4 separate regions of the Homo sapiens genome follow, and all the other regions are linked to region 1. The links come from fine-mapping of genetic effects on gene expression. A gene starts in region 1. Each other region holds a variant in brackets. All regions are shown on one strand. Distances are between the middles of the regions. Region 1 holds the start of LINC00954 (long intergenic non-protein coding RNA 954). Region 2 overlaps WDR35 (WD repeat domain 35). Region 3 has its middle 12 kb from the start of TTC32. Region 4 holds the start of TTC32 (tetratricopeptide repeat domain 32).

Region 1 (5,388 bases):
GTTGGGGCACCAGCTTTGATGCTACTTCTGAGCCCAAGGCAACAGCAATGAGCCACGTGGTTGGATGATGACTGTGTACAGCCCACCTACCTTTAGGCCTCTGTTCCTTACCTGCCAACCTAAATCAAGATTTGAAGTTGTATTTTTAATTGACTCATAATAACTGTACATATTTATGGGATACAGTGTGATGTTTACAATGTGTAATGATCCAATCGGGGTAATGCGTATCCATCACCTCAAACCTTTATCATTTCTTTGTGGTAAGAGCATTCAAAATCCTCTTATAAATATACAATATAAATTATAAATATGATAAATATACAATATACTATTGTTAACCATAGTCACCCTACTGTACAATAGAACATTAAAACTTATTCCTCCTAACTGGAATTTTGTACCTTTTAACCTATCTCTCCTACACTTCCCAGCTACCTGGAACCACTATTCTATAGTCTCTACTTCTGAGATCAGCTTTTTCAGATTCCACAAATGAGTGGGGTCACGTGGTATTTGTCTTTCCGTGCCCGGCTTGTTTCACTTAACATAATGACCTCCAGGTTCATCCACGTTGCTGCAAGGGACAGGATTTCATTTTTTAAAAGTGGCTGAATGGTATTCCTGTGTGTGTGTGTGTGTGTGTGTGTGTGTATCTAATCTATTTCACATTTTATCCATTCATCCAACTGAGGGACTGAGAGGGACTTAGGTGGATTCTATATCATTGTGAATAGTGCTGCAATGACCATAGGAGTGCAGAGATCGCTGACATTCTGATTTCCTTTCAACTTAATCAAATCTTGTTTCCCGAAAAGGGTCTATTTCATGGCTGATAAGGCTTAAGTACTAAGGGACTTGGTTCCATGAAAATATCAAGTGTGGCCTCACTTCATAGAACGAAGGAGGTAGTTTCGGCCCCAGGAGACCCAGCATTCTGGCTGGGGTTACCTGTGCTCACCTCCATGTAGTTCCCTTCAGAGAATCTTCCTCGAGGCCCATGTGAAATAGGGACAGGACATGGTATAGTTGTAGGTGGTTTCTTCACCAGCTTCCATGAACCCAGACACCTCGATGTTCACACTGAGGGAAAACCATCTATTATCCTGGAAGAAGGGCAAGAAAGCACCGAAGTCCCAGGGAAGATGAGGCAAGAATCAAATAGGGAGGTTTGGCCCAGTCCCACCTGGCTCAGTGGGACTGAGGTACGGGTCTCTTGTTAGTAGACAGACGGCTGGAGGTGTGCAGGGAAGGGAGCATGATGAAATAGAGCAGGTAGAGATGCACAGAAGAGACTTAGGATTTAGTGATCTGACACTAATCTCACCTCTGTTCTGTTGAAGTGCTCCTGCTAGCTCCCTATACCTTTGAACCCCTAAATCCAGGCATAGCTGGGGCCCCAGTCTCCCCGTCCACCTTGCTGACATCGTAGCCAGGTTAAACCCTGCTATCCCACGAGTCTCCTTCTGATTGCTCTCATCTGCAGTTCTACCCCATGCCTCATCTGAGCGCAAGGTGCCTGCATGCGGCTTCCTCTAAACTCCTACAGCTTTGGGCCTCCTGCCACACTCTGGCAGTTCCCAGCTGTCAGTTACAGCCACCTGGAAATGCTCTTTTTTTTTTTTTTTTTGGTCCACCTTACAAAGGTGATCTATTCATTAGAGGTCAATCCTGGCAAGGCAAAGATGGAACTGTGGTCTCTGTTCTTAGACACAAGAGGACTCTGCAGCTGTGAAGACAGCCTGTGCCAGGCGGAAGCGATCTGCATCCAGGAGGGGATGCTGGATTCCCCAAATGTCCTCAGTGCTGAGGGCAGGGCCAGATTTCTTCCATATGAATCTTGGACACCTGTTTCCTGGGCAATTGAACAAGGGCATCTCAGAAGCTTGCTCACCTGGTTGACCACATGACAGGCCAGTACAGAGGCCCTGAAGGTTTCCCCAGGCGTCTTCAGACAACACGTAGCCACAGCGTGGGGCCACGGGAGGTGCGGCAGCTGGGCATCCAGGGGTCTGCAGTGGAAGGAGTATGGTCACCTGCCAGCCTGGAGGAGCCTGGGGGTCCTCAGAGTCCCTGGCACCAGAATCACTTAAGGCAACGCTGAGGGCTGGTCCCAGGGAAGCAGACCCAGGGCGTCTCATAGCGGGTGGGGACAGGCAGATGGGTGGGAGAACCGATGCTGGGCGGCAGGCTGTGGGGGGCAGCTGCGCGATTCTGTATCCTTGCTGGACCCCAGGCAGGCCAGTCTTTCTGGGTTGGGCGGGCTAGCAGGGAACCTGGGTGGGCTGGGGGTCAGGAGGTTGTTTTGGGGACACCGGGCTGCAAAAACCCATGAGTCCTTCCCCTGTCACCAGTAACTTCCGCGTAGAAGGCTTTGTTGTCTAGAGAGCCTCATCCGGAAGATGCCGGCGGGGCAGCTGCTCTCCACGAAGCCTGTGAAGCCCGGGTCGGTTCGGGTCAGTTAGAGAAGGCGCGGCCCCTCCCTGCTGCCCTGTGGGAACTCCACGTGGGAAACGGGGGGCTTGGCGGGCACTTGCATCCCATCCTTCACTGACCTGGGCGGAGCGAGAGGGTCGCTTGAGCGCCGAGGCCGGGGCCATGGCGACAGGAGCAGAAAGAAGAGCCTAGGCAGGAGAAGCGGGCGGGTTGGGCACGGCGAGGAGGAGCAGGAGGGGGCGGAGAGTGGGACGACCGGGCCACACCTACCCTGCAAGCAAGGGGCCCGCGGCGGGGACTCCACTACTGGGCTGGGGCGGGTCACGCGCTGCCCGGGGCTTTATCCGCGAGGCCTCCCAGGCGCTCCACCAGGTGTGGAAGCCAGGTCAGGTGCGCTCCGCCCGGGTGAGCTGCACTTCACTGCGGTACCCCAGCCTCAAAATTCCCCGTACAGTTCTGGGAGCCCTTCACGGCTATGCCCTAGGTGGACTTCACACTTCTGGGACAAATTAAGAGTGTCCTAGGATTCTTGGATTCAGCTGTTAAAAAGAAAAAATAAAATCTTCGGTTTTTCTTAAAATGTGTTTTAAGCATAAAAAATACATAATACAAATGCACAGTTTAAGGAAGTGATTCTACAGCAATCACATCATGTTCTTGATCACCCACAGCGAAGTATTGCTGGCACCCCTAAACCTCCCCTGCCTCCTCCTCAGTGGTCCCGATTTATTCAACTAGCCTTATCTGTTCTCCCGGTTTTAACATCACTTTCACGGCTGCGGAACTTCTGTGCAGAATTGTTCCCATTCTCTTGAAGGCTTAGGTTGTTTGCACTATTTAGATGTTATAAATAATGCTGAGACAAATATTTGTTCACAAGGATGATTTCCTTAGGATAAATTCTCAGTACAGATGAGGAATTTTCAGCCAATAGCCATCTTTATTTTCAAGGTTCTTGGAATATGTTGCCACAGTTTCCCCCCAAAGAGTTTTGCCAATTAACCATCCATCGGCAAGTCAAATCAATAAGTGCCTACCCTGAGCCAGTCCCAGGGAATAAATGGCAGATCCATGTTTAAGTCTCAGTTCCATCACATCCTTGCCAGCATTTGGTTTTAGTTTTCTGAGATTAAACAAATTTTTTAGTTTGCATCTCTCTGACGTTAGAAAGGCAAAACTCCCACGTGTGTCTGCTTGCTAATTAGAGCATCTTCTAATTGTATGTGTGAACTGTCCATTTACTTCTTGGGATGTTGATGTTGACCTGAGGCACTTGGATGTATTCTTTATGTGGTAGAGATAGTTGCCCTTTGCCATTTTTGTATGTTTTCAGAGCTGAGTGAGACCTGGAATTCACGTGGTCCAAACTCCTTACCATGGGTTGAACCGTGAGCCTCCCTCCGCTCCCCTCCACCCCAATTCTGCCACAAAGATATGTTCATTACCTAACCTTTAGAACCTGTGAATGTGACCTTATTTGGAAACATAGCCTTTGCAGAAGTAATTGGGAGTCTGAGAAGAAGAGTTCATCCTGGATCATCTGGGTGGATCCTAAATCCAATGTAAGTGTTCTTTTAAGAGAAAGGCAGAAGGAGACTTGGGATAGAAGAGTGGACAGCAGTGATGTGAAGACAGAAGCAGAGACTGGAGTTCTGCTGCCGCAAGCCAAGGAACACCTGCATTCACCAGAAGCTGGAAGAGGCCAGGAAAGATTCCTCGAGGCTTTGGAGGCCCTTTCCACAAGTTGGTGTCAGATTTCTGGCCTCCGGAACTGGGAGAGAATAAATTTCTGTCGTTTGAAGTCACCAAGTTTGTGATGCTTTGTTGCAGAGGGCCTAGAACAGGGATACAGCCTCCATTTTGCAGGTGGGAAGGACATGAGGGCCCAGGCTTATTCAGGGTCATTACTAAGTCCAGAGTTGAGATCCTAACCCAGGGTTCTTTGTCTCCTAGGCCATGAGACCAGGTGGAACATTTTCCCCCAGATGCCTCTCTGGTGTGCAACTGAGACTTCCACGGGGAACTCTGTAGCTGTAGGAATGGAGTGGGTGAAGTGAGCTCACACACTGATGAGCTCAGACCGTGAGTGCAAGGACCTAGGCTCTAGTTCTGGCTCTGCCACTTATTAACCTTGTGCTCTCAAATGAGTTATGTGTGGGCCTCCTAACAGTCTGAATAGCATCCTGTTGCTGCAGCTCCATGGTCTTTGCTTAGTGCCCTTGAGTTGTTGAGATGTGCAGACTTGTTTTACTCCATGGATGCTTTACAAGTGTTGCCTCTTTAGGGGTAGTGGCTACATGAGCAGAAATGGCACCATACTTTCATTTCTATTTGGTGGCTACTTCTCTTGATGCTTTAACTGTTACTCATACCCCTAAATCAGCTAGAGGGATTTGGGACACACCGCCCTATAACATGAAGCCTGTAGAAACTGAGTACTTGGACAGGACAAGAAAAGACAGGGATTTCTTTTCTTTTTTGAGACACAGTCTCACTCTGTTGCCAAGGCTGGAGTGCAGTGGCGCAATCTTGGCTCACTGCAGCCTCAGCCTCCCAGGTTCCAGTGATTCTCCTGCCTCAGCCTCCTGAGTAGCTGGGATTACAGGTGGGCACCACCATGCCCGGCTGATTTTTGTATTTATAGTAGAGTCGGGGTTTCACTGTGTTGGCCAGGGTGGTCTTGAACTCCTAATCTCAGGTGATCCACCCACCTCTGCCTCTCAAAGTGCTGGAATTACAGGTGTGAGCCACTGTGCCCGGCCAAGACATGGATTTCTAAGTGCTGTATAGCTGGGTATGGTCTCATTTAAGGATTCTGCAAAAAGATCTAGTGCTAGCTTGTCCACTGATAGACACTAGCATATGCAACTACTGAACACTTGAAGTGTCACCAGTGTTACTGAGGAACTGAATTTCTCATTTGAATTCATTTAAAATAAAAAATACTGGCTG
Region 2 (5,388 bases), 71 kb before region 1:
ACTTTAATATTGAATTGCATGAATTAGAATTTTCAAGCTATATGACTTTTTATTAATTGAGAAAATTGGACTGAATATTACATGCTATTAGGGAATTAACATTAATTATGTAAGGTGTGATCATAGTAATGTGGCCATGTAAGAGAAAATTCTTATGTTTTAAAGATATGTACTGCAGTATTTAGGGATAAAATATCATGATGTCCGTAATTTACTGTATTTACTTTACAATACTTCAGCCAAGAAGTTAAAGGAAGCATATTTACCATAATGCTAATTATTTAGGTTATGGGTATATGGGTGTTAATGACATTCTCTCTTTTGTTTACCTGAAAACTCTGATAATAAAATTTAAAAGCATGATTTGTTAAAAGAGAGGAAATTTTGCATAATGAAACATAACTTTTTTTTTGTCTTTAAAGGAACCCATTCAGACCTCTGGATATATTTGTAATTTTGAGGATTTAGAAATTAAATCTGTTCTTTTGGATGAGATATTAAAGGTAATTCCTAAAAAGTTACATTTCTGTTGCTAGCTTGACAGGGGATTATTTCTGGACCAGGCGGTGTAGTATCCTGGTTAGCAGTGTGGACCCAGGAGTCAGATATATCTCAGGCCCAGCCCTGCTCTCTTATTGTTCAGCCTTTAGGTGGGTGCCACCATCTTTTTGAGCTTCACTTTACTTTCCTGTAAAATGATGATAAAAATGTATAAGTCTCAGTTATTGCCTTTATAAAATACAGATAATAATACTACTTATAGGATTGTTATTATATAAGATAATGTGTGAAAAGCAATTAGCACAATGCTACGGCCAAGTGAGAGCTAAAAAAAATGAGTGCTAATTGTTGTCATTGTTTTTGTAGTAATAACGAGGTACTGAAGAAATATTTAAGAGTTTAGCCTTTTTCTAGTTCTAAGATACTTGAGTAACTTTTTTTTAGAGATCTATCTTTCCATTTTTTCCAGGTTTTGTAAAATAATCCTTTTTTCTCTTTTTAAATTCAAGACATGATTTTGAACCCCTGCATTGGCCTACATTGACCATCCTTTGAGAATTTTTTTTCTCTAAGAATATACTGAGAGAAGTTTTACCTTCATTTTAGCCAAAGCATTAACTTTTTCTATGTAATATATATATAGTTTTTGAATTGAGATAGTAGATTTAAAATTTCCAGAAGTTAGTGGCAATTTGGAACAGGTTTGGGTTTGATATGTAAATCATATTTGGGTTTGATATGTAAATTATGGCTATTTTATTGTGAGCCAGTTTCATTTTCTATATCATAACCACCATGCAGCAATGGGATGGGCCCCCACCCAAAATTTGGTTTGGATGTAAAGATTGATGATACCATAGGGACACCAGGAATGTATCTTCCATAATGAAACTTTTAGGGGAGAGAAGGGCAGGCTTCCCAAGCTGTCAGAAATGGCTGGACAGCACAGGGAAAGGAGACTGGCTTGAGGGTGTTTTTGTTGTTGTTTTGTTGTTTAGTAGTTAGGGAGTGGGTCTGGGGTGAGGCTTTTAATGGATAGGGGCTTATGTGGTTTGAAACTCACTGGTGCCCCAAAGGAAGAAGCATCTGGGCTTTCTCATTAGCTTGCCCCATGTGAGGCAGAGGGGAAGAGGGAGAGGTGAGGTTTAAAAGCTGTCAGCAGCCAACCATCAAAAATGGAGTCTGGGCTGTTATTACCTAGGATTATGTAACCTCCAGATTTGACTATCTGACTCTTCTGTATATGGATAGCACTTTTCTTGTCCTTGTTTAAGGTATATGACTTGTAAAACTAATGAACTTATTTCATTGCCCGTTTAACTTGAATACAGTACCACCAGATAATATTTTTTCCTTTTCCACACGTGTGAAGAAAGATATCTATTGTTTTTTTTTCAGCAGGGTTTCTCTCTGTTGCCCAGGCTGGAGTGCAGTGGTGCCATCATGGCTCACTGTAGCCTCTGCCCCCCAGGCTCAAGTGATCCTCCCATCTCAGCCTCCTGAGTAGCTGGGGTCCCAGGCACAGGCCGCCATGCTTGGCTAATTTTTTGTGTTTTTTTTTTTTTTTTTT[TG/G]TAGAGATGGGGTTTGCCATGTTGGTCAAGGGTGGTCTTGAACTCCTGGGCTCAAGTGAAACTCTCATTTTGCCCTCCCAAAATGTTAGGATTACAGGCGTGAGCCACCATGCCCAGCCAGAAGATGTCTTTCTGCTTGTCTTCTTTCCCAAGAGATTTAGGGAAAGAAGACATTATTTATTTATTTCTTTTTTTTTTATTTTGAATATGTGGTTCTTCCAGGGCCCTTTAAAAAGACAGTCATAAGTGGGTAGAATCAAACTAAGGTGACTGAAATATTTTGTCTGCTTTTATATATTTAATGGTTTGATAAAGAGTGAGCTTCTTGAATCCCTAACATTTAGCAAGGATCTGATACAGAGTTGGTTTTCAGAAAGTGTTGGTTAAATTGATTTTTAAAAATGAATACTTTACTGCTTTTAAACAAATGGCAGAATTATATAGAATTCAAGCAAAACAGAAAAGTACTGAAACAAGTTAAAAAAAAACCCTAAATCCCACAACTCAGATATTTTAGTCACTACCGTTAAACATCAGAACATCATTCCTTACAGCTGCAAGTTATATATGGAAATATGGATTTGATAGATTTAGATAGATGAACAGAAGTAATTTTATAAAAATGACATCATTGTACAATCTACTTTTTTAGTGTTAATTTAATTAGATAACCTGAAAGTGAGTTTAAAGGAATTCTAGACTTTTAGATAATATTTTTCCACTGCAAAGAATACCATTTTCCTGGGTTGAGAAGAAAAATTATGAAAAACCAGGTAGTTATTAGTTTAAATTATATTTTAATTTTTAATAGTATTGTCTTTCTACTCTAAAAGATAACATTCTTACATTTTCTTCTTTTTCTCCTTTTGTAGATATATTATTTTTACATTGTCAAGATTTAGAACATTTAAATTTCGTCTTGTAATCCTAATTTCCAGTTGTTTAGTCTTAATAGTTAAATGAATTCAAAGCTATTAGCCAGGCTTTTTACTACATTTTCTCCTTACGTAAGTTCTTAATTTTGATTAATCTTTTAGTTGGCTGGATTTCATTGTTAGTAGTGTTTTTCAAGAAAGGCTCATAATTTCCGATTGCCTTAAGCTCTAGAATGTGTGAAAATGCCTGTGGTGTTGTTGCTGTAATTGATGATTATATTGAATTTTGTGAAGTTTTTTAGATAAAGAAGGCTCTCAGTGGTAAAATGATTTACCTAAAGTTCATCTATTCATTAATTCAGCAACTATTAATTAACAGCCAATAAGACACAGTTCTTGGCCTCAGGTAGAGGAGTTGAGGAGATGGATAAGTAATTCAGTTGCCAGAAAAGAGTTAGGGGTGCTGTGATTCAGTCAGGATGGTACACCTGTTCAAAATTCTGAAGCAGGAGAGCATTAGGTCAGTTCTGAGATGATGAATATTGAATACCGTAAATAGTACAGCTAGGCATTGTGCTGAATCTTTGAGACATGTTATCTCATTTAAGGTGAAAAACCAATCTGAGCAGAGGGAAACAGGGATGCATAACTGTGAGGGACCCCTTCTGCCATTTTCCTCTGTCCCCTTTTCCTCATAGGCCGCCTGATTGCCTCAGAGGTACTTACTTGTGGGTTTTGGTGTTTTCCAGATAACTCAAAAGACCCAAACGTGAAGATTTCTCTTCCTTATTTTGCTCACAATATGATGCCGTTTTTTTTCTTGTTTTGTTTTGTTCTGGTTTTTAATATAAAAAAGAAACACATACTCTAACGGCAAATATTTGAATTTTTTTGTTTTCATCTTTACTTTTAGGATCCAGAACATCCAAACAAGGATTACCTAATTAACTTTGAGATTCGGTCTCTGCGAGATAGCCGAGCACTGATTGAGAAGGTTGGAATTAAAGATGCATCTCAGTTCATAGAGGACAATCCACACCCCCGACTTTGGTATTTAAAAAAAGCAAACTCTCCCAGGATGTCAGGTGTAGGTTTTTAAAGTCTCAGTTTTGTCCCTCTGCTCCCCTACTATCCTCCTGATGGGAGCAGACTTCCATTCTTGCTCTTCTTTTTAAGATGTAGAAATTCATTTAGATTTGGAAGTCCTCAAAATAAGCAGAAAATTATTTGAAAAATGTTTGCATATGTTACTTTCCACCATGTTTCTCTAGAAATAATAGACATAAATGATAATTGAATTGTGATTCAAGACTAGTTTGTCAGTAATTTGCAATATGCACTTATGTTTTTGTTTCTTTTAAAATAAAGGCGCCTACTGGCTGAAGCAGCTCTTCAGAAACTGGATCTATACACTGCAGAGCAAGCATTTGTGCGCTGCAAAGATTACCAAGGCATTAAGTTTGTGAAGCGCTTGGGCAAACTACTGAGTGAGTCAATGAAACAGGCTGAAGTTGTTGGCTACTTCGGCAGGTTTGAAGAGGCTGAAAGAACGTATCTCGAGATGGACAGAAGGTAAGTTATGAAGGCGCAGGCATCCCTGAGTACTCTATCAGTTCATCATTGTATTTTTTACAAATGGAAACTATAAATACGTTAGGTGTATCATATGGTTCCTTTTAGAAATTAATTTTAAGTTTGGATTACAACCTAGATATTCTACATGCCTCTCATTCATTTGTGTTTCATAGTCTGGAGGCAGTTTTCTTCTCTGTTTTTACATCTAATAATGGCTGACTCTGGGAGGTTTTTTTTTCATTTGATGGGAAAAAATGATAGAACAACAGAGACTGGGATCTTTTATATTTAAGACATAGCTCATTATTCCAGTTCTTTCTTTCTTTGTTTGTTTAGGCCATTATTTAATTTTATGTTGTCAAGAGGCATAAAATAAAAATCAGAAGTCGTTAGGGATCGAGATTAGTTCTTTATATTTCGTTTTTGATTTATATAAAATAATGTATGAACTTCATAAATATTTCTTCTTTTGAATTAAAGAACTGTAAGGCCTGTCTCCCTGGCCAGGAATCAAACCCAGGCAGCTGCTATGAAAGCAGATAATCTTAGCCACTGAACCACAAGGCGGAGAGTCTGTCTGAACTTCATTTCAGCTGTTAAGATTGTATCTCATCTTCATTAATGTTATTTATACTCCCAGGAGATCTCTAATATGACTTAGGCTCTGAAAAGTCATATAAAACCACATGTGTTAACACTGTGTTTTGTTTTGAAATAAACCTGATCACATCTAAGAAATTGCTGAAAAGAAATGATTGTTATTTAAATCATTATTTTGCTAAATAAATTGAAAGTCCAGGAAAGTAAAGGCACAACATTCTTTTCCCTGTTCTGGTATCTTAGACCATTTGGGGTGCTATAACAAG
Region 3 (5,388 bases), 21 kb before region 1:
GGTTCTCTATTAATGAGTTAAACATTTTTCACATTTTCATTCTATATTCTTATAAGAATCGTGCTTAACTTCAAAAAACATTTTGGCCCTACTACTGAAGAAACAACAAAAAACCCTTGGTATGGTTTGGCTGTGTCCCCACCCAAAATCTCATCTTGAATTGTAATCCCCATAATCCCCACATGTCAAGGGAGAGACCAGGTGGAGGTAATTGAATCATGGAGCTGTTTCCCCGATGCTGTTCTCGTGATAGTGAGTGAATTCTCACGAGATCTGATGGTTTTTAAGGGTTTGGCAAGTTCCTCCTTCTGTCATTCTTCCTACTGCCTTGTGAGGAAGGTGCCTTGCTTCCCCTTTTGCCGTGATTGCAAGTTTCCTGTGGCCTTCCCACCCATGCTGAACTGTGAGTCAATTAAACCTGTTTCCTTTATAAATTACCCAGACTGGGGCAGTTCCTTATAGCAGTGTGAAAACAGACTGATACAACCCTTAAGTAGAATTTATTATTACATAGTCACATTATTTCTAGCAGGAATAAGAGCCAAGGGGGACTGAAAAGCTTCAGTTTTTTTTTCTGTTGCTTATTTATTTTTTTTTTTTGAGACAGAGTCTCGCTCTGTTGCCCAGGCTAGAGTGCAGTGGCGTGATCTCAGCTCACTGCAACCTCCACCTCCTGGGTTTCAAGGGATTCTCCTGCCTCAGCCTCCTGAGTAGCTGGGATTACAGGCATGTGCCACCAAGCCCAACTCATTTTTGTATTTTTAGTAGATACCGGGTTTCACCACGTTGGTCAGGCTGGTCTCAAACTCCTGACCTCATGATCTGCCTGCCTCGTCCTTCCAAAGTGCTGGGATTACAGGCGTGAGCTACCGTGCCCAGCCCGCCTATTTCTTTAAACTATTCAACAATTCTTGTTTGGAGTGTGTGGAGGCTTGAGCTCTGGCTGAAGCGAAGTAGAGGGAAGGCCATCACATTCAATTTAAACACATGCAAAAAGTACTCCTTTTAAAAGTGGCAAACCTGCAGAATATAAGGTAAAAAGCAGTTCCTGTCTATCCTTCTAGGCCTTTTTCTTTGTACAAATACATGGGCACAGGTATGCAGATACATGCGCAGAATTATGGTATACATATTATTTGGTAACTTAAATCACTTATTATTTTGAACATTCTTTTGTGTAAGAACTTAGAAGTCTACCTTATTCTGCTTTGACACATAATTTTTAAAGCCGCATGAAAAGTGCTTGCCAATTTCTTGATATACAATTAATACATGGCTATGGTAATAAAAATTAAAACAGTACAGGAGGTATAAATAAAAAGACCCCCCGCCTTTCATATTTTTCTCTACAGCTAACCATTTTTAGCCAGAATAACTAGAAACAAAGGGTTAAAAGGCTCCCTTTCCTATGGCTGCTAGTCACCTCTTGAAAAAATTACTATTAGTTGTGTTCACCACCTGAGTGCCTCTTTTCCCTCTAGGCAATTTTGACTCCTGTGTACCAAGAATACCTTTGAATGTATTCTTTTGGCACCACGTTATTTGAACCTATTTCCACTTTATTGGAAAGCTCTTTTTAAGATCACAGAGTTGATGTTGTGCAAACTTAAAGCATCCCAAACGGAGTTCCTGGTCCTCCCCCAGCACAGCTAATGGCAGCTGTACTGTCCCGCCTCTCATGCCAGACTTGGTCCCAGTGCTCCCCAGCGGCAAACACTGTGGGTTCCTACCTTGAAACAGATCCCGATTCCAGCAATTTTCATCTCATCCGCTACCACCCAAAGCCAAGACATCAGCCCCTCTGTATTGCAAGTATCCTGCTTTGTCAGTTTTACCTCCAAAGTCAGTTTCAACACAGCCACCAGAGTGAAGGTTTGGGAGTGTGCCATGGCTTCTCTCAGTGAGAAGCAGAGTCTTCACAAAGACTCACGTTGAGGAACTTACATGTGCTGTTTTCTCCCTGCCTTACCCCATGGCCTTATCCTGGCCCTTCTCTGACCGCTCTCTTTAAAATAGCAAATCCTCATCATACTCATCTTTTTTCTGTTTACCCAAACCATGTTCTTATTTATTTTGTCTTTCCCACACTGGAAGGCAAGCTCTGAGAGGGCAGGGACTTTTGTCTCTTTTGTTTACTGTTGTGTCCTCAGCACCACGGCCTGGCATGCAGAAGGGCCTTACATGTGTTGAATGGATAAGTGAATTCATTATCATAATCTGCTCAGTAACTTGCTATTTAGAGCTTACAGATTCATCACTGGCTAATAGGTATGGGGTGGATAAGTGTTTGAGCCCTTCTCAGCTGACCTTGAGAATAGGGCCTGATTTATAGTTCAGCATCGATTTTATTTAAAACAGGTCACTATTCTAGTTTAGAGGAAAAAGCCCCTCTAAAAGACAAGGTCAAATTCAGCAGGTAATATAATGTTATAAACTATAAAG[T/G]TACCTGTTAGGAGTTGAATTGGGCCCCCCAAAAAGATATGTTGGAGTTTTAACTACCAGTACCTCAGAATGTGACCTTATTTGGGAATAAAGTTATGACAGATCTAATTAGTTAAGAAGATGCAGGTGGAGTAGGGTGGGTCCTTACAGATACCTTGTGTGACTGATGTCCTTACAAGGAAAAGGAAATTTGGACACAGACACTGGGGAGAACGGCTTGTGAAGACAGAGGTGGAGACTGGAGTGGTTCTGCCACAAGCCAAGGAACACCCAGGGATACCCGAAACTGGAAAAAGCAAGGAAGGGTTTCCAGCTCCCCAGGGGTGAGGTCCATGCCCTAGAGGCTTCAGAGGGAGCATGCCCTTGCCAACACCTTGATTTTGGACTCCCCAGTCTCCAGGACTGTGAGAAAATAAATTTCTGTTGTTATAAGCCACTCAGTTTGTAGTGCCTCGTTACAGCACTGCTGGGAAACCCAATAAATAGTAGTTTCATTTTCAAATGACAGGCCTTTTGCACATGAGCTCGCATGTTTCTGCACCTACACATGCAGCTCTATTGAAGAAAAGGTGAGCCTTTTGTTAGAACAAACCTGAAAACGGAAGACTTCCAAGGTTGGGGGGTGGGTGTGGGAAAGAAGGGGCTATTACTCCTTTATCTGATCATGACCCTCACTGGATCAGGAGAGGAACCCATGACTGAGCACCATATAGAACATGCTGGTTGCCCTGGCTGCCTGCTGAGAAATCCATAACCACCCCCGTGTGGCTTCGAGACATTCAACTCTCGGAGAACTGAGGTTTCTCTGACTTGAGATTGGAAAGGAAAAGTGGGAGTCACTTCATGCTGCCAAACAACAAACCATTGCTAACAAGCCAGGTGAAAAAATAACCCAGTTGGCTGAGCAGGCAGGATTGGGAGCTGTCAGTCTGGGACTCACAGAACAATAATTATTTCCATTATGAAGACTGGCTGCCAGTAGACTTACTGGAACTGCACCAGCTTCTTGCTTGGGGAGGGTGGTGTGGAGGCAGATGGAGCAAGGCGCCTGCATGCAGGGCCCCAAGCCTCGGTGTGTCACTCATCTGTGACAATGGCCAGTGCCCACTCCTCTACCCTTGCTATTCTCAATCCCACCGCCCTGTCTGTGTTCAAATTTCTCTCCCAGAATACAGCCTTTTCATTTATTTAAATCCTGCTCATTCTTCTGGGACCAGCCCAAGTCCCAGTAACTACCATTAAACCTTCCCTGCCAATATCAACCCAAACTCATCTCATTCTCTAACTTCCATCACACTCTGGTCTAGATGGAGCACCCTTGCTACTGAATGGGGACCACAGACCGGCAGCATTGGCATCACCTGGGAGCTTGTTAGAAATGCAGATCCCTAGCCCTGTACCAGACCTGCTGAATCAGAGCTCACACTTTACCCAGGCCCCCAGGCGGTTCATACGCACACTAAAGTATGGGGAGCACTGTCTGTAGTACTGGTTCTCAGCACATGGTCTATGGACCAGCAGCACCTAGGACCATGTTAGAAATGCAAAATATCAGCCCTACCCCAAGCCAAGTGAATCTAGCTCCCTGGGGGTAGGGTCTAGCCATCTGTGTTTTAACAAGGCCCCTGGGGAGTCTGAGGCACACTCAAGTTTAAGAACTACTTCCAGTTCATCTGGCCCAGCATCTAATTCCAGGGTGCTTTTCCATTTCCTGTGTTCCTCTCCCTCTTCAAGATGTGGACCCTGAAGGCAGGAGCCATGTTGGTTGTCTGTCTGGCACTCAGACCAGTTTCAACAGGGTGATTGACGTCCCAGGGCAACTGATCTGTTTTCCTTACCCCTCCCTGCCCTATACAAGCACAAGGGAGTCTGGGGAGAAGGACAGTGGAGGAAAGGGCCGATGGAAGATGACCTTCTTGTTTTCCCGAGTCAAGGGTTTGAGGTTTTTGTGGGAGGTTGGGGTGCATTATGCTGCTTCTCTCAAATTGGAGACCATTGTTACCATGTAATTTTATGTTGTGGCCTGACTTGATCCAGAATTCTGTCTCCAATAGTTTTACGTGGGTTTTCTCCCTGGAAAAAGTTATTACGATTGAGCAAATAAAGCAATGTTGGCTAACTGTTCCCTTTTCTGGATCGACATGTCCTTCATCTGGGTAAGTGGCAGTGGCCAGCTCCTCTGGCTTGCAGGACCAGCAAGGAAGATTTTCAGACGTGACTAATGTATAGGCTCCTTGGACTTCCTACTCATGAACTCTCATAAAATGTGCTTTGTTCCATCATTGTCAATTAACACAGCAGCGAGCAGTGCTGGGCTGGGGAGCAGCCGGGCCTCGCCTTTAGTGCACTTCCTCCTTGGCTGGCTGTGAGCTTTCAGATAGCCAGACATAATTCCTTTTGAGCTGCTTAATGGACACATAATTTTAATCAGTCATAGGACACTTGAGCGGGAAGGAACTGGAGAAATCATCTACTCCTTTATTTTACAGGTAAAGGTTCCGGCTTAAAGGTTATGCAGTTGGTTAACAGAATTATGACCAGATCTAGCCCTTCCGGTTCTCAGTTTAATAATAGTGACTTCCAGTTAGTGAAGCATGCCCCGGTGTACACTTATTTTCATTAATCCTGATGGCAAACCTTAGACCTATCTCAAGATTCAATTTTGTGCCTAGGACCATCCTCCCGGATTGCAGTCCCATGGGCCCAGCCCTGTGATGTAATATGCAAAGGCTCAGAAACCTAATTTGGAGAAGAACGTTATGGGCACTGAAGACGTCCTGCAGTAGACAGGACACCCCAAGGCACTGCTAAGTTGTGGGTGCATGTCTCCAGCTGGAGCTGTGGGAATGAAAGCTGGCATAAAGAATGTTGGGATGAGGGACATAGACCTAATCACATTTCCATCTACTCAAATGCTGCTTATAATCTGACTTACAATCATGGGAA
Region 4 (5,388 bases), 34 kb before region 1:
TGTTTTTTCCTAAGAGTTTGTAATTTTAGTTCTTATATTTAGGTCATGATCTATTTTAATTTTTGTATATGGTGTAAGAGACCAGCTTCATTCTTTTGTAGTGGATATCCAATTTTCCTAGCACCATTTGTTTAAAAAACTGTCTTTATGCCAATAACACACTTGTTTTGGGTAATGCAGCTTTGCAGTAAGTTTTGAAATCAGGAAGTGAGTCCTTAAACTTTGTTCTTTTTCCAAAATTGTTTTGGCTATTTGGGAGTCCTTGTAATTCCATATGAATTTGAGGATGGAGTTTTCTATTTCTGCAGAAACATCATTGGGATTTTGATAAGGATTCCATAGAATCTGAAGATTGATTTATATAATATTAACATCTAAACAATATTAAGTCTTCTAATCCATGTACATGAGATGTCTTTCCATTTATGTCTTCTTCAATTTCTTTTAGCAATGTTTTATAGTTTTAATTGTACACATCTTTTACTTTCTTGATTAATTCCTAAATATTTTTTTCTTTTTGATGTTACTGTAGATGGAATTGTTTTCTTTTCTTTCTTTTTTTTTTTTTTGAGACAGAGTCTTGCTCTGTTGCCCAGGCTGGAGTGCAGTGGTGCAAGGCACAATCTTGGCTCCCTGCAACCTCCACTTCCCAGGTTCAAGTGAGTCTCCTGCCTCACCCCCTGAGTAACTGGGATTACAGGTGCCTGCCACCACACCTGGCTAAATTTTGTATTTTTCGTAGATACAGGGTTTTGCCATGTTGGCCAGGCTGGTCTCGAACTCCTGACCTCAAGTGATCCATCCACCTTGGCCTCCAAAAATGTTGGGATTACAGGTGTGAGCCACTGTGCCTGGCTGGAATTGTTTTCTTAATTTCATTTTTGGATAGCTTCATTGTTAGTGAATAAAAATGCAACTGATTTTTGCATGTTGATTTCATATCCTCCTACCTTGCTGAATTCATTAGTTATAACCATTTTTTAAATGGAATCTTAAGAAGGACTGGTGTTGGTTCTTCCTTAAACATTTAGTAGAATTCATCAGTGAAGCCATCAGGTCCAGGGCTTTTCTTTGTCAAGAGGTTATTTTTAGATTACTGATTGAATCTCCTTACAAGTTACAGGTTGATATGGTTTGTGTGTGTCCTCACCCAAATCTCATCTTGAATTGTAGCTCCCATAATTCCCACATGTTGTGGGAGGGAGCCGGTGGGAGAAAAAACTGAATCATGGGGGCAGTTTCCCCCATACTGTTCTCATGGTAGTGACTAAGTCTCACAAAATCTTATGGTTTTATAAGGGATTTCCCCCTTCACTGTTCTCTCATTCTCTCTTGCCTGCTGCCATGTAAGACGTGCTGTTTGCCTTCTGCCATGATTATAAGGCCTCCCCATCCACGTGGAACTGTGAGTCCATTAAACCTCTTTTTTCTTAAAAACAAAAAAATTACCCAGTCTTGGGTACGTCTTTATTAGCAGTGTGAGAACAGACTAATACACACGTCTATTCATATTTTCTATTTCTTCATGATACAATCTTCGTAGGTTTTTTGTTTCTAGGCATTTGCTCATTTCATGTAGTTACTCCCATTTTTCAGCATACAATTGTTCATAGTACTCTCTTATAATCCTCTTTATTTCTGTAGAATTGATGGTAATGTTCCCATTTTCATTTCTGATTTTAGTAATCTGAGTCTTTTCCTTTTTCGTAGTCAATTTAGCTCAAGTTTTATTAACTTTTTTAATCTTTTTAAGAACCAACTTTTGGTTTTGTTGATTCCATTTTTGTTTTATCTGTGTTTTGATCTTTTATTATTTTCTTCCTCTGCTAGTTTTGTGTTTGCCATTTGTTCTTGATATTTAATGTTAATAAATGTTTTACTTTTTAATAAATCTGTTAATATTCCAACTGTTTTTTAATATAATTCCTTTCCTTTGTAATCCTATGTTTTAAAAACACTTGAAAACATTGAAACGACATAGGCTTCACCACACTTGTAAAGGTGCCATAGCACAAAAAAGGTTAAGAATCTTACTCCTATTTAGAAACCCCCTTCCCAAATCCCCAATTTCCATTACATATCCTGCTATTTTCCTCTTAGATCACTGGTTTTTAGACACATAAATATTCCTGTTATTCCTTGAACAGAACAAAGCAAAACTTCTAGTCAGGTGCGGTGGCTCATGCCTGTAGTCCTAGCACTTTGGGAGGCTGAGGTGGGCAGATGTCTTGAACCCAGGAGTTGGAGATCAGCCTGGACAACATGGGGAAACCCATCACCACAAAAAATACAAAAATTAGCTCACTGCCAACCACTTCCACCCAGAAGGGATTCTTGTGCCTCAGCCTCATGAGTAGCTGGGATTACAGGCACCCGCCACCACGCCCAGCTAATTTTTTGCATTTTTAGTAGAGACGGGGTTTTGCCATGTTGGCCAGGCTGTTATCAAACTCCTGTCCTCAGGTGATCTGCCCGCCTAGGCCTCCCAAAGTGCTGGGATTACAGGCATGAGCCACAGAGCCTGGCCATCTCCACTTTTTCTTATCCCCCAAAAGGATTAACATCCCTGGCTTTATGTAGAATAGTGTACGCTGCCACATCAGTGTTTGAGTCATTCCCCAGAGGAGAGGGGAATCCCCCCTCCATTTTTTTTTTT[G/TG]CAACATCTTGTCTTCCCTTTGCTGTTGCTTCCCCCAACACACTTGGTTTTGTTCTATCCTGTACTTCAGATTTGTTTTTTGTTTTGTTTTTTTCATATTGAAAAGATGACATTGCTCCAAGAGGCAAAAATAAATGGGAACTGAAAAAAAAAAGCTTTTTATCTTATTTATTTAATCTTTTAATTCACCTGGAATGAATATTATGTCAATTGGGAGCTTAAATGCTTAAATGTATTTTTCCCCAAATGGTTAACTAATCCTCCCAATAGCACTCATTTGAATAATCTGTCCTTTCCCCATATATGTTACATGTCTTTTACAAAATACAGCCTATTTGAGGTATGTTTCTGGGCTTTTGTTCTATTGAGCTGTCCATTTGCTTACACCAGAAATGCCAGTTTATTTTTTTGTAGTCTTGCAATCTTTTAATTTCTACTAGTGCTTTTTAATTTAACCTTAATCCACTGTATTTGTATTTTTTTCAGTGGTGGTAAAAGGAAAAAATTAAAAATCTAATGAAAGCAGCCAAAAGCACACAATTTATGTCCTGTTAAGACTTCCGCATGTAAGTATCATGCTCCAAATATATTTTTCATCTTTACTTTTTATGACGGAAAGGGCTCAAGTACTTTGGGAAGCAAAACAGAATCGAGGGACGCCGAGAAGATACACAGCAGGCATGTAGGGTAGCGTGGTTGGCAACTGTTCTTACAAAATTTTAATTTGAATTATACGTAATGTACGTAATAAATTACTATTTGGATTTCCCTTTGGCATAAACAGCCAGGGAATATAACTAACATCAAAGATCCCAGACTCTCGACACAATATACTACTAATCGTAACACAATTCTAGAGGGTCAAAAAAGGTAGAGAAGTTTGGACCGTGGAACAGACCTGGTGGAATGTCGACACAAAGCGTTTCAGGGTAGACAAAGCCTACTCAGAACACCCTAAACGCGGAGTTTTGCTAAGTTGGGACGCTAAAAGGCAAGGGAATGACAGGACGTCCGCAGGCTAATTCGCCATTAAGAAACAGAACCGCGGCTTCTTCCACCTCCAGCGTCATCGGCCCCCAATTCGCTGTAACAAACGGATAGTGTCTCGCAGCATCAGACAACGGACTTGGAAATCAGTTTGCGACCACGCATCTGCGCCTTTTCTAGGAAAAGAGGAAGGCGGGTCCAACACTGGTAACGGCAGAAACATAGTTCACAAGGGCCACTGCAAACGCCCCGCCAGCAGCGGAACCGTTATCTCGCGAGACGACGGATCCCCATAAGGCACAAACCTAGCGCCAAGGTTGGCTGTCAAGGTAGATTCCAGGGTGTGGAAGTGGCTTTGTGGTGCCACCTCTAACCGCTCGGAGGTCAACCCCCATTCTACACCGAAAACTAGGCCTTGGCTGCTATGGAAGGACAGCGGCAAGAAAGCCACGCAACCCTAACACTCGCCCAGGCTCATTTCAACAATGGAGAGTACGCGGAGGCCGAGGCACTGTACTCCGCTTACATTCGCCGGTGCGCTTGCGCGGCCTCCAGCGACGAGAGTCCCGGGAGGTAACTATCGCGAGACCTGGGGCCGCGGCGACCCCGGGTGGAGGCGACGTTGGGGTTGTTTGGGCTCCTATCTTTGCCTCTGGAGCTCACGGTCGGCGCTTGTCATAACCCAGCACTAGGACTGAGCGGGCGGACGTTCGTCTTTCTAGAAAGGCCTAGGCGAGGCCTAGGACGAGGGCGGCGGAGAACGCGGGGAGAAGCCCACCCGTGAGGAGCCAGCTGCCGCGACGGTGCGGAGAGATTTCCGGGAACCAAGCCCTCTGCGCGATCCTCGGGCGCGGGCCGCCGCCTCTCACCCCGCCGTCTCTCCTTCCACGTTCCTCATTCGCACCCAGAGACTTAGGACAGATAGGAATTTTCCACTCGTGATTTTAGCTGGCGGGAAATCCGCGACCTGGGAAGGGAAGGGGTCACGGCTGCGTAGGGCCACAGTACCGCGACTCCCATCTCAGTGTCACGGCGCAGGCTCTTGGTGGTGTTTTTCACTTGTGAAAAACGTTTAAATATGTGGAAGAGAGCATAACGAACGTCTAGGTGTTTATCACTTGGCTTAAGCATTATCAGTTTACCTATTGTATTCATCCATGGATGTTTCAGAAGGAACCACCATGTCATCATCACATAGTTACTTAATATCAAGTCGTCAGTGTTGGAACCATTCTGATCGACTAATAAGGTGTTTTGTTCTTTGGTTCCCTTTTCGCAGTTAGTTCAAGTCAGGATACACATCAAGTCTTTTTAAGTCTCTTCTCCACCTTCCCCTCTTTATTTGTTGAGGAAACCGATTCTTGTGTCCTTTGAATTTCCGTGTTTTGGACTTGCTGACTGAATCTCTTCTGTCGTTTAATGTGGTCATCTGTCTCATATTGCTGTGAATTGGTGGTTAAACCTTGAGGTTTGATCCAATTGAATTCAGATTCAATATCATGGCAAGAATACTTTTTAGGTGGGTGTGTGTACTTTCACCAGGAAGCACATAACGATTCGCTGACTTTCTCTTTGTGATGTGAGCGGCTTCACCTGTTACTGTCTGCTTGCCCAAAGCATCTTTTCGGCTTGTGCCTGGATGTGTAGCATTTGTTTTTACTCCAAGTCTTGCCTCGACTGGGCTTGTTGATGGTATGGAGTGGATCAGGATGAGAAAAGAACAGAGGGGTTGGTTGAACAGCTTT

What was found.
Region 2: its variant is fine-mapped to the expression of LINC00954 in monocytes (Schmiedel 2018, PIP 0.95).
Region 3: its variant is fine-mapped to the expression of LINC00954 in whole blood (TOPMed, PIP above 0.99).
Region 4: its variant is fine-mapped to the expression of LINC00954 in activated naive CD4 T cells (Schmiedel 2018, PIP 0.95).

What each region holds. Positions count from the first base shown.
Region 1 is chr2:19,866,120-19,871,507 of GRCh38, reverse strand. LINC00954 (long intergenic non-protein coding RNA 954) reads right to left here and starts at 2,654. Exons shown (of 10, transcript NR_033875.1): 1 at 2,556-2,654; 2 at 1,895-2,012; 3 at 962-1,106. RefSeq lists an enhancer at 2,893-2,942.
Region 2 is chr2:19,936,874-19,942,261 of GRCh38, reverse strand. It overlaps WDR35 (WD repeat domain 35), which reads left to right. Exons shown (of 27, transcript NM_020779.4): 17 at 423-503; 18 at 3,861-3,997; 19 at 4,316-4,519. Among named protein-coding and RNA genes, the nearest start is that of TTC32, 38 kb to the right of the region's middle. The variant TG/G (reference allele first, on the strand shown) is at 2,072.
Region 3 is chr2:19,887,065-19,892,452 of GRCh38, reverse strand. No RefSeq gene overlaps it. Among named protein-coding and RNA genes, the nearest start is that of TTC32, 12 kb to the left of the region's middle. The variant T/G (reference allele first, on the strand shown) is at 2,443.
Region 4 is chr2:19,900,534-19,905,921 of GRCh38, reverse strand. It overlaps TTC32 (tetratricopeptide repeat domain 32), which reads left to right and starts at 3,939. Exons shown (of 3, transcript NM_001008237.3): 1 at 3,939-4,216. The coding sequence starts at 4,068. RefSeq lists enhancers at 3,587-3,826, 3,216-4,096, 4,277-4,376, 4,457-4,516, 4,657-4,846 and 1 more. The variant G/TG (reference allele first, on the strand shown) is at 2,657.